Homo sapiens: one gene and its partner. The protein of the gene in region 2 interacts with the protein of the main gene of each other region in a pairwise test. Each region holds a gene or a part of one and is shown on either strand. Other genes may lie near its edges.

Region 1 (3,821 bases), on a different chromosome or scaffold from region 2:
TGCAGACCTAAGGCTTCTGTTCCTTATTAAAAGAGGTCCTGGCCAGGGGTGGTGGCACGAGCCTGTAATGACAGCTACTCAGGAGGCAGGAGGAATCACTTGAGCACAGGAGTTGGAGACTGCAGTACGTTATGATGGAACCTGAGAATAGCCACTGCACTCCAGCCTGGGTAACAACAGCAATGCCACCATCACCCCCCCAAAAATGGGAAGAAAGTAGAAGTCCTAAAGAACAACTCTGAGAAGAAAGGTGGCTGTTCTAGAGATCTATACAAAATCGTGCTTGCAAAAAGGTTTTTAAATTATATATTTGGCCACGCAAAGTAGTGTACATCTGTAGTCCCAGCTACTAGGGAGGCTGTAGTGGGAGGATCGCTTGAGCTCAGCAATTACAGACTAACTTAGAAAAAAAAGAAAGACACCGTTTCCAAAAACGATTTTTTAGGCCAGGCATGGTGGCTCATGCCTGTAATCTCAACACTTTGGGAGGCTGAGGCAGGAGGACTTCTTGAGTCCAAGAGTTCAAGACTAGCCTGGGCAACATGGTGAAACTCTATCTACAAAAAGTACAAAAATACCCAGGTGTGGTGGCACGCACCTGTAGTTCCCGCTACCAAGGAGGATGTGGTGGGAGGATGGCTTGAGCCTGGGAGGTCAAGGCTGCAGTGAGCTGGCATTGTACCACTACACTCCAGCCTGGCTGGAGTTTGTTGAGCTCTTGTTATGTTACCAGGCACTGTACAAAATATATTAGCAAATATCCTTAAGACAGTACCAATGAAGTTAAATTCTACAAGCCTCATTTTAGAGATCAATAAAATGAGGCTTAAAAAGGGTAAGTTGCCCTCTTAAATTAAAAAAAAACTTTTTTAGTTAAAAATAAATAAGTTATATATTTATGCTTTCCCTTATTTTTCTTCATAGAGACAGGGTCTCGCTATATTGACCAGGCTGGTCTTGAACTCCTGAGCTCAACCAATCCTCCTGCCTCAGCCTCCCAAAGGGCTGGGTTTACAGGCGTGAACCACCATGCCCGGCCTAATAAGTTTTATATTTAGAGAAGAGCTTATGCTATTCAACAGTAGTCACTGCTGATGCATCTCTGGTGTTTCTCCTGTAAGAACTACATTTTTCACTAGTTTATTATTTACTTGCACAGGTTTACAAGCTTAAAAACAGATTTAAATAAAGATAAGAATGGAAGGCATTGTGGAATTGTGCTTAATGAATAGTCAAAAGTTTTAAAGTCAGACCAACCTAGCTTTAAATCCCAACAGCTCTACTATTTGCTGTGACCTTAAGCAACTTACCCTCCTTAAGCTTCATTTTGTTAATCTGTAAAATGAGGATCATAAAACTTACTTCACTGGGATTGTCCTAAGGATAGATGCTAATATATTCTGTACAATGCCTGATAGATAAGAACTCAACAAACATCAGCCAACTGAAGGTTTTCAATTTTTTTAAAAAATGGAGTACTATCATACCATGAAAAAAAGTTTTTATTTTATTATTTTATTTTTTTTTTTTTGAGATGCAGTCTTGCTCTGTTGCCCAGGCAGGAGTGCAGTGGCACAGTCTTGGCTCACTGCAACCTCCACCTGCTAGGTTCAAGCGATTCTCCTACTTCAGCCTCCTGAGTAACTGGGACTACAGGCATGCGCCACCATGCCTGACTAATTTTGTATGAAAAAAAGTCTTTAAAAAATAAACAGCCAGGTGCGGTGGCTCACACCTGTAATCCCAGCACTTTGGGGAGGCTGAGGCGGGCGGATCACCTGAGGTCAGGAGCTCAAGACCAGCCTGGCCAACATGGTGAAACGCCATCTCTACAAAAATACAAAAATTAGCTGGGCATGATGGCAGGTGCCTGTAATCCCAGCTACTCGGGAGGCTGAGGCAGGAGAATCACTTGAACCCAGGAGGCGGAGGTTGGAGTGAGCCAAGATGGTGCCATTGCACTCCAGTCTGGGCGACTGAGCAAAATTCCGTCTCAAAATAAATAAATAAAAGATTACCCAGGACCTCAAAACAGTACTCATTAAAGATTGTTACTATTATTTAATTTGAATAATTAACACACCTTAAGCATGCCTCTAGTCAGTGAAACTAACAGAACAAGTAAATTAAGATACTCCCAATTCTTAAAGAGCTGCACCCAGGACGCTATATTTCAAATAATGTTTTTTTCCCAAAATATTCCAATCTTCCCATTCCCTCACATCAATAAATACAATCAACTGCCTTACTTCATCTGAGCAGCTGCTTCTTCTTCTTGCTGACGTTTGGCCTGCTCTTCTTGCTTCTTTCTCTCTTCCTCTTGATGTTTCTTTTTTTCTTCCTCTTCTTTTTTCTTTGATTCTTCCTCTGCCTTCACCTTTTCTTCGTCTTTTTTCTTGCGTTCCTTGTCTTCCTTTTTTCTCTTATCATCTTCCAGTCTCTTCTTCTTGTCTTCAGGGGCCTTGCTGACCTCCTTCTTGGCAGTGAGCTTGATATCGTCTTTTGGCCTCTCCTTGCTGCTCACTGTCCGCCTTTCACTGCAGTCTTTTTCCTTGTTGTTTGGTAAAGAGTCTTTTTCTTCCATACTTGCTGGCTTTTTACGCTCAGCTGGCATTATGTGACCCAGGACAATCTGTAAGAGGGAAAGAATGTCAGTACCATAGATGCAGTGACTTTTTAAAATGATATCACACTATTTTTTTAAACAGAACATATTAATGCAACTTGGCAATTGTAAAAGAGTAAATAAAGGCAGGTAAAATGAATACTATTTCTGTTACAAAATAAGTTATTCATCACATTCCACATCCTATCATTATTAGTTAGGCCTATGTCTAAGTACTTGTTTTTTACTTTTTATAAGGAAAAATCCAAGCCCAGACAAAAGTAGAGAGCATAATATAAGGAACCTCCACGTACCCATCACTCAGATTCAGCCACTATCAACTCCAAAACAATATGTCATTTAATTGTAAATACTTCAGAATATATCTGTGAACATTTTGAGTCAGCTTTAACCCTAGCATTTGACAACCATGAAAGATGGCAGTTCACTATTTCATATAATATTCAATGTCAGTATTTCAGCTGAGAAAGGAAACAAAAACAAGCCCTTGCCTCCTATATGTCAACGGACAAAACAGAACAGCGGACTCACGAATCTCACTTCATTGCTCTAACCTTATCATCAAACTTTCAGATACAAAAACTGTTAACTATCTCAAATTAAACTAGACTTTTAACTTCTTCATCTGTATTAGTTAAAGTTAATTTATAAATAAACATGAACCTAAAATCCGTATGTTCTGTGCTATATCTGTCAATACAGAGTAGCTATTAGCCCAGGGTTTCTAAAGTTCAGCACCATTGACAGTTTGGGCAAAATACTCCTTTGGTTTTAGAGGAAAGGGGTCACCATGTGCTCTGTAGGAGGTTTAGCAGTGTCCCTGCCTGCTATGCAGTGCATACAAGTAGCTCCTCCCTCATTTTGACAACCAAATATAACTCCAGACATTGCTAAATATCCGTCGGAGAAAAAATTATCACCCAAAAACTGCTGCACTAGTCATATGTGGTTACTTAAATGTAAATTAATTAAAATTAAATAAAATTTGAAATTCAGTTCTTCAGTCAGTATCTGTATTTCAAGTGCTCAATTCCACATGTGACTAATGGCTTCCATACACAGCAGGGCAGATACAGAACATTTCCACAGAAAGTTCTATTGGATAGCATTGGCCTATAGTACAGGCTTATAGTTAACTGAAAGTAACTGTGGAACAAAAAACTATACTTTGCAGGAAAATTCTGAATTTTTCTTT
Region 2 (4,330 bases):
TGGATCAGTAGTCACATCTCTAGAACTGCATCTTAAAAATTGTGAGAAACACACAAAAATTTATGTAGTTGAAAACAAGCTAAATATAAGATATTTATTAAATAAACTTTGGTGCAAATAATAATAATTGGTTTTATTTGTTGGAAAATTTCTAGGTGCCAGATGCTATTCTAAGGAGTATGAATGTATCAACACTAAAATGAAGTTGGTACTATTATTATCTCCATTCAACACATGAGGAAACAGAGAGACAGAGAGGTTAAGTAGCTTGTCCAAGATCACACATTTAGGAAGAAGGAGCACCAGGAATTGAACTGAGATGTCTTATTCAAGAGTCCATGTTCTAGTCACTTATCAATCTTCTTCTGAGACTGTCCATGGATCCACCCATGCTGTCCCATTGTGTGGCAGCACCTATGTAATGGAATATAGTGAACCTTTGTTTAAAAAATGTTTCAATAGGTATTAAATTATATAGGGACATGCTTACATTAAAATATTAAGGGGAATAAACAGTATGCAAAACTGCATACTATATTATTTCAGTTCTAGAAACCTGTGTGTGTGTATGTCTAAGGGTGTATAAATCAAAATCCAGACCTAATTAGTGGCTGTCTCCAAGTGACGGGTTATGTGTCATTTTTTTCTCCTTTGTGCTTTCTAAATATTCTGAATATTTGTTAATGAGACAGAACTGCTGTGATCATCAGAAAATTTAGATTAAAAAAATTCAGGGTGCCAAAAAATTCTAGAATACTTAAGAACAGCACTTAGTTTACCTTAAAAGTTAAAAATTGAATCCAGAAGTAAATATTTGCAAGAAAAACAATTATCAAGGATTGCTAACTTTTAGTTTCTTAAATAATGAATCCAGAAGTATAAATACAAAATATTTGCAAGAAAATATAATTATATCAAGGGTTGGGAGGAGAAGAAGGATGTTTAGACTAGAAAGGGTAGTACCTACCTAAAAGAGAGTGCTTAATAGAACTGTGCTGGATTAAGTTTGCACAGTGGACCCTATTTTAACTTATGTCAGCTCTACATAAGCAGTCTCCTGACAGTCGTCATTAGGATTCACTGGAGACTGGAACTGTGCGGACAGAGGGCCTGTCTTCAGAAGAGAAAATGGGGGAAGAGCTTTGAACCCAGAGGTACAATCTCTGGATTGGAGAGTTTCAAAGGTGCCAGGGAAAAGCAGTACAAAGAGCCTTCTTTTTGACAATAACTCTAAAACACACTTTGCTCTGTGAACGCCCGTCCTGGGCAGGGCCTATCAGCAGGGCCAGATGAGCCTATAGACACCCAGGGTGGCGCGTTCCCAGCCGCCCTGCGCATGCCAATCTTATCAGTTTTGATGGAAGCCTGGGGCTCCAGATAATGCTACTTGGCCCCAAACGCTGGACAGAGCATGCTTTTTCCTGTTTGGCTGGGAAAGGGAAGGCTGAACTGCTGAGTCTGACACTTAACAGGACTTCGGCATTCCCCTGAATACAGACTAGATCAGAGATTTTATTTTTTTAATTGAAAAGTAACTTGGGTTCTCTTTAGAAACCCTTATTTGGTGTGCGCATCTGGCTATTTCACAGAGATTTCAGTTTTGCAAAGAAGTCGGAGTTGATTTCTTCCCTCAGACAAGCTATTGGTTGTTGGTGGGCAACAGAAGTTGCTCAGCATAGACAGGGGAAAAAACGGTTACGGATGAGACTGAAAGAAAACCTCAAAGGAGAACTCTGAGAATTCATCTCAGGATGAAGCTGCAAGGGCAAAGGAGAAGTACTTGTGACACAAGCAAATGGGTCCATTGATCAACAGATGCAAGAAGATTCTTCTCCCAACTACTGTACCTCCTGCAACGATGAGAATCTGGCTCCTTGGAGGCCTGCTGCCATTCCTGCTGCTCCTCTCTGGCCTGCAGAGACCCACAGAGGGTTCTGAGGTAGGGGGACAATTGAGGGGGTGATCTCTTTATGATCAGTGCTCCAACAGAGCATTCACCCGGCCACAGCCTTTAAATGGCCGAAAACTTAGGCATTCAGAATCTAGTTTCATTCAGACATTTTAACAAATCATGTTAGTAAAGAGTGTTGAAAACAGTTATGAAAAATTGTAGAATCCTTCACTGTTAGTACACTTGACATTATGGATGCTAGTGGCATAAAGTTATTTTCCTGATCCACTGTAAAAATTAAGTAAAATATTGCTTCCATAGTACAAACAATGCAAAATAAACCAAGTCTATTTGGCTTTAAACTCTAGCATACAGATTGACTTAAGTTTTAAGTGAATATTTTAATAAAGATCTGTGTAACAAAAAACAACCTAATGTTAAGAGATGACAGAGTACATATTTGAGATCTAGTAACATATTAACAAAGTTTCAGAGTTCATCATGACAGTTGACAGAACATTGTATTATTGGTTTGGTTTGGCTCGGCTTGGCTTAAATAGATACCGTAGACCTATTTTAATACCTGATGTGAAGAGTTATTGGTTAAAATCATTTAATCAGTCTTAAAAATGTGTTCTAGTTCACAAACAACTAGCTGACGTCTCATCATAAATAACATAGTAAAAATACCAAATGGGATGTTCTTTAAGTTCCAGTTCCAACATCCTTAACATTGACTGGATGGAATGTGATCCTTTAACATGTCCCTCAATGAGTACTGTTTATTACGAAAACATCATTTCTTTGCCAAGAAAGGAATGTTTTAGAATTTATATAATTTATATATGGCTCTAAATGATAGTCTGATGATATTTTGTGGACTTCTATTCAAATCTGTCATTTCAGTTTAGCATGCACTAGACGTGAATAAACAACATTCTGTTGGCTACCCATTAGAAAGGAATGTCCTTTTCCAGGAGGGGAGGGACTTTCCTAGGCACATTCCTGACCACTGTCCAACCCTTGACTCACTCTGCTGTCCCTGAGGGGGACAAATGTACTTGACTGGTAACATGGGAAAAAACAACTGGGTGTGCTGAGTTTGGCTCTGCTCTTCATCCTCCTGGGAGTTAGCCTGATGGCAAAGGGCATCAGTTCTCTGTTTCCCCATGACAAGAATCTTACCTGGGCAGGCCCCAGTTCAGTACTGCCTGCAAACGAGTCGGTCCCATTCTGGAATTTGCTCTTAACAAGCCACTTGCTATCAGACCTAACAATGTGACTGCTGTAGCGTGCCCTTTTTCAGTAAGAAAACAGATATTTTGGCTTTCATATTTTGCTATTTTTATTATCAATGTTTTCAGAACCCAGGTAGACAAGAAGGTTGTTACTTATGAGAGCCCCCTTAGTACTATTCATAGCTTAAGGATAAAGTTCAAGGATTTAATTTGGTTTTGGGCATTCATAAAAGTGATATTTTTGAAAACACCAGTGAGAGACTAGAAAGAGGGGGGAAAGTAGAGGAAACAGAAAGTGTAATTAAACTACAAGATTTTGAATTTTTTCTTCAAAGTACTTACTATGCAAACATGCTGTGATTTTAGTGATATTAAAAGAGTTACTTCCTCTCTGGGGAGATGAGTTTTTCAAGCTTTCAGTAATTTATTTATCAAACCAAATTCAATCTCTAGCACAGGTCATTGATGCAGTAAGGATTGGAACAGTGTAATGATTTTCAGTGTAACTTACTTCAGTAAATATTGGTTTCCAGGAGAAGACTTACCCTTATAGAGTACAGCAAATCTGCAACCACATTCACCATCTGATTTGAAAAATTAAACTCAAGATTTTTCTTTTTTTACAGGTTGCAATTAAAATCGACTTCGACTTCGCACCAGGTTCTTTTGATGATCAGTACCAAGGCTGTAGCAAACAGGTTATGGAGAAACTAACTCAAGGGGATTATTTCACAAAAGACATAGAAGCCCAGAAGAATTATTTTAGGATGTGGCAAAAAGCCCACTTAGCCTGGCTTAACCAAGGAAAAGTTCTACCCCAGAACATGACTACCACACACGCTGTGGCTATTTTGTTTTATACATTGAACAGCAATGTTCATTCTGACTTTACTAGAGCCATGGCCTCTGTTGCCAGGACTCCACAGCAGTATGAACGTTCATTCCACTTCAAATATTTACACTACTACCTCACCTCAGCAATCCAGCTGCTGAGGAAAGACAGCATCATGGAGAATGGCACTCTGTGCTATGAGGTGCATTATAGGACGAAGGATGTCCACTTTAATGCCTACACAGGGGCCACCATTCGATTTGGCCAATTCCTCTCCACATCCCTCCTGAAAGAAGAGGCACAGGAGTTTGGGAACCAGACACTATTTACCATATTCACCTGCCTGGGTGCACCTGTACAGTACTTCTC

What was found.
Region 1: the proteins of ART4 (region 2) and UPF2 interact in a two-hybrid assay, tested with the Homo sapiens proteins (one large-scale study listed by BioGRID).

The regions. Positions count from the first base shown.
Region 1 is NC_000010.11:12,032,810-12,036,630, forward strand, and holds part of UPF2 (regulator of nonsense transcripts 2), read right to left. Parts: intron 2,633-3,821; 5' UTR 2,615-2,632; coding exon 2,250-2,614; intron 1-2,249. UniProt on the Homo sapiens protein: Involved in nonsense-mediated decay (NMD) of mRNAs containing premature stop codons by associating with the nuclear exon junction complex (EJC).
Region 2 is NC_000012.12:14,840,579-14,844,908, reverse strand, and holds the start of ART4 (ecto-ADP-ribosyltransferase 4 isoform 1 precursor), read left to right. Parts: upstream 1-1,382; 5' UTR 1,383-1,795; coding exon 1,796-1,939; intron 1,940-3,755; coding exon 3,756-4,330.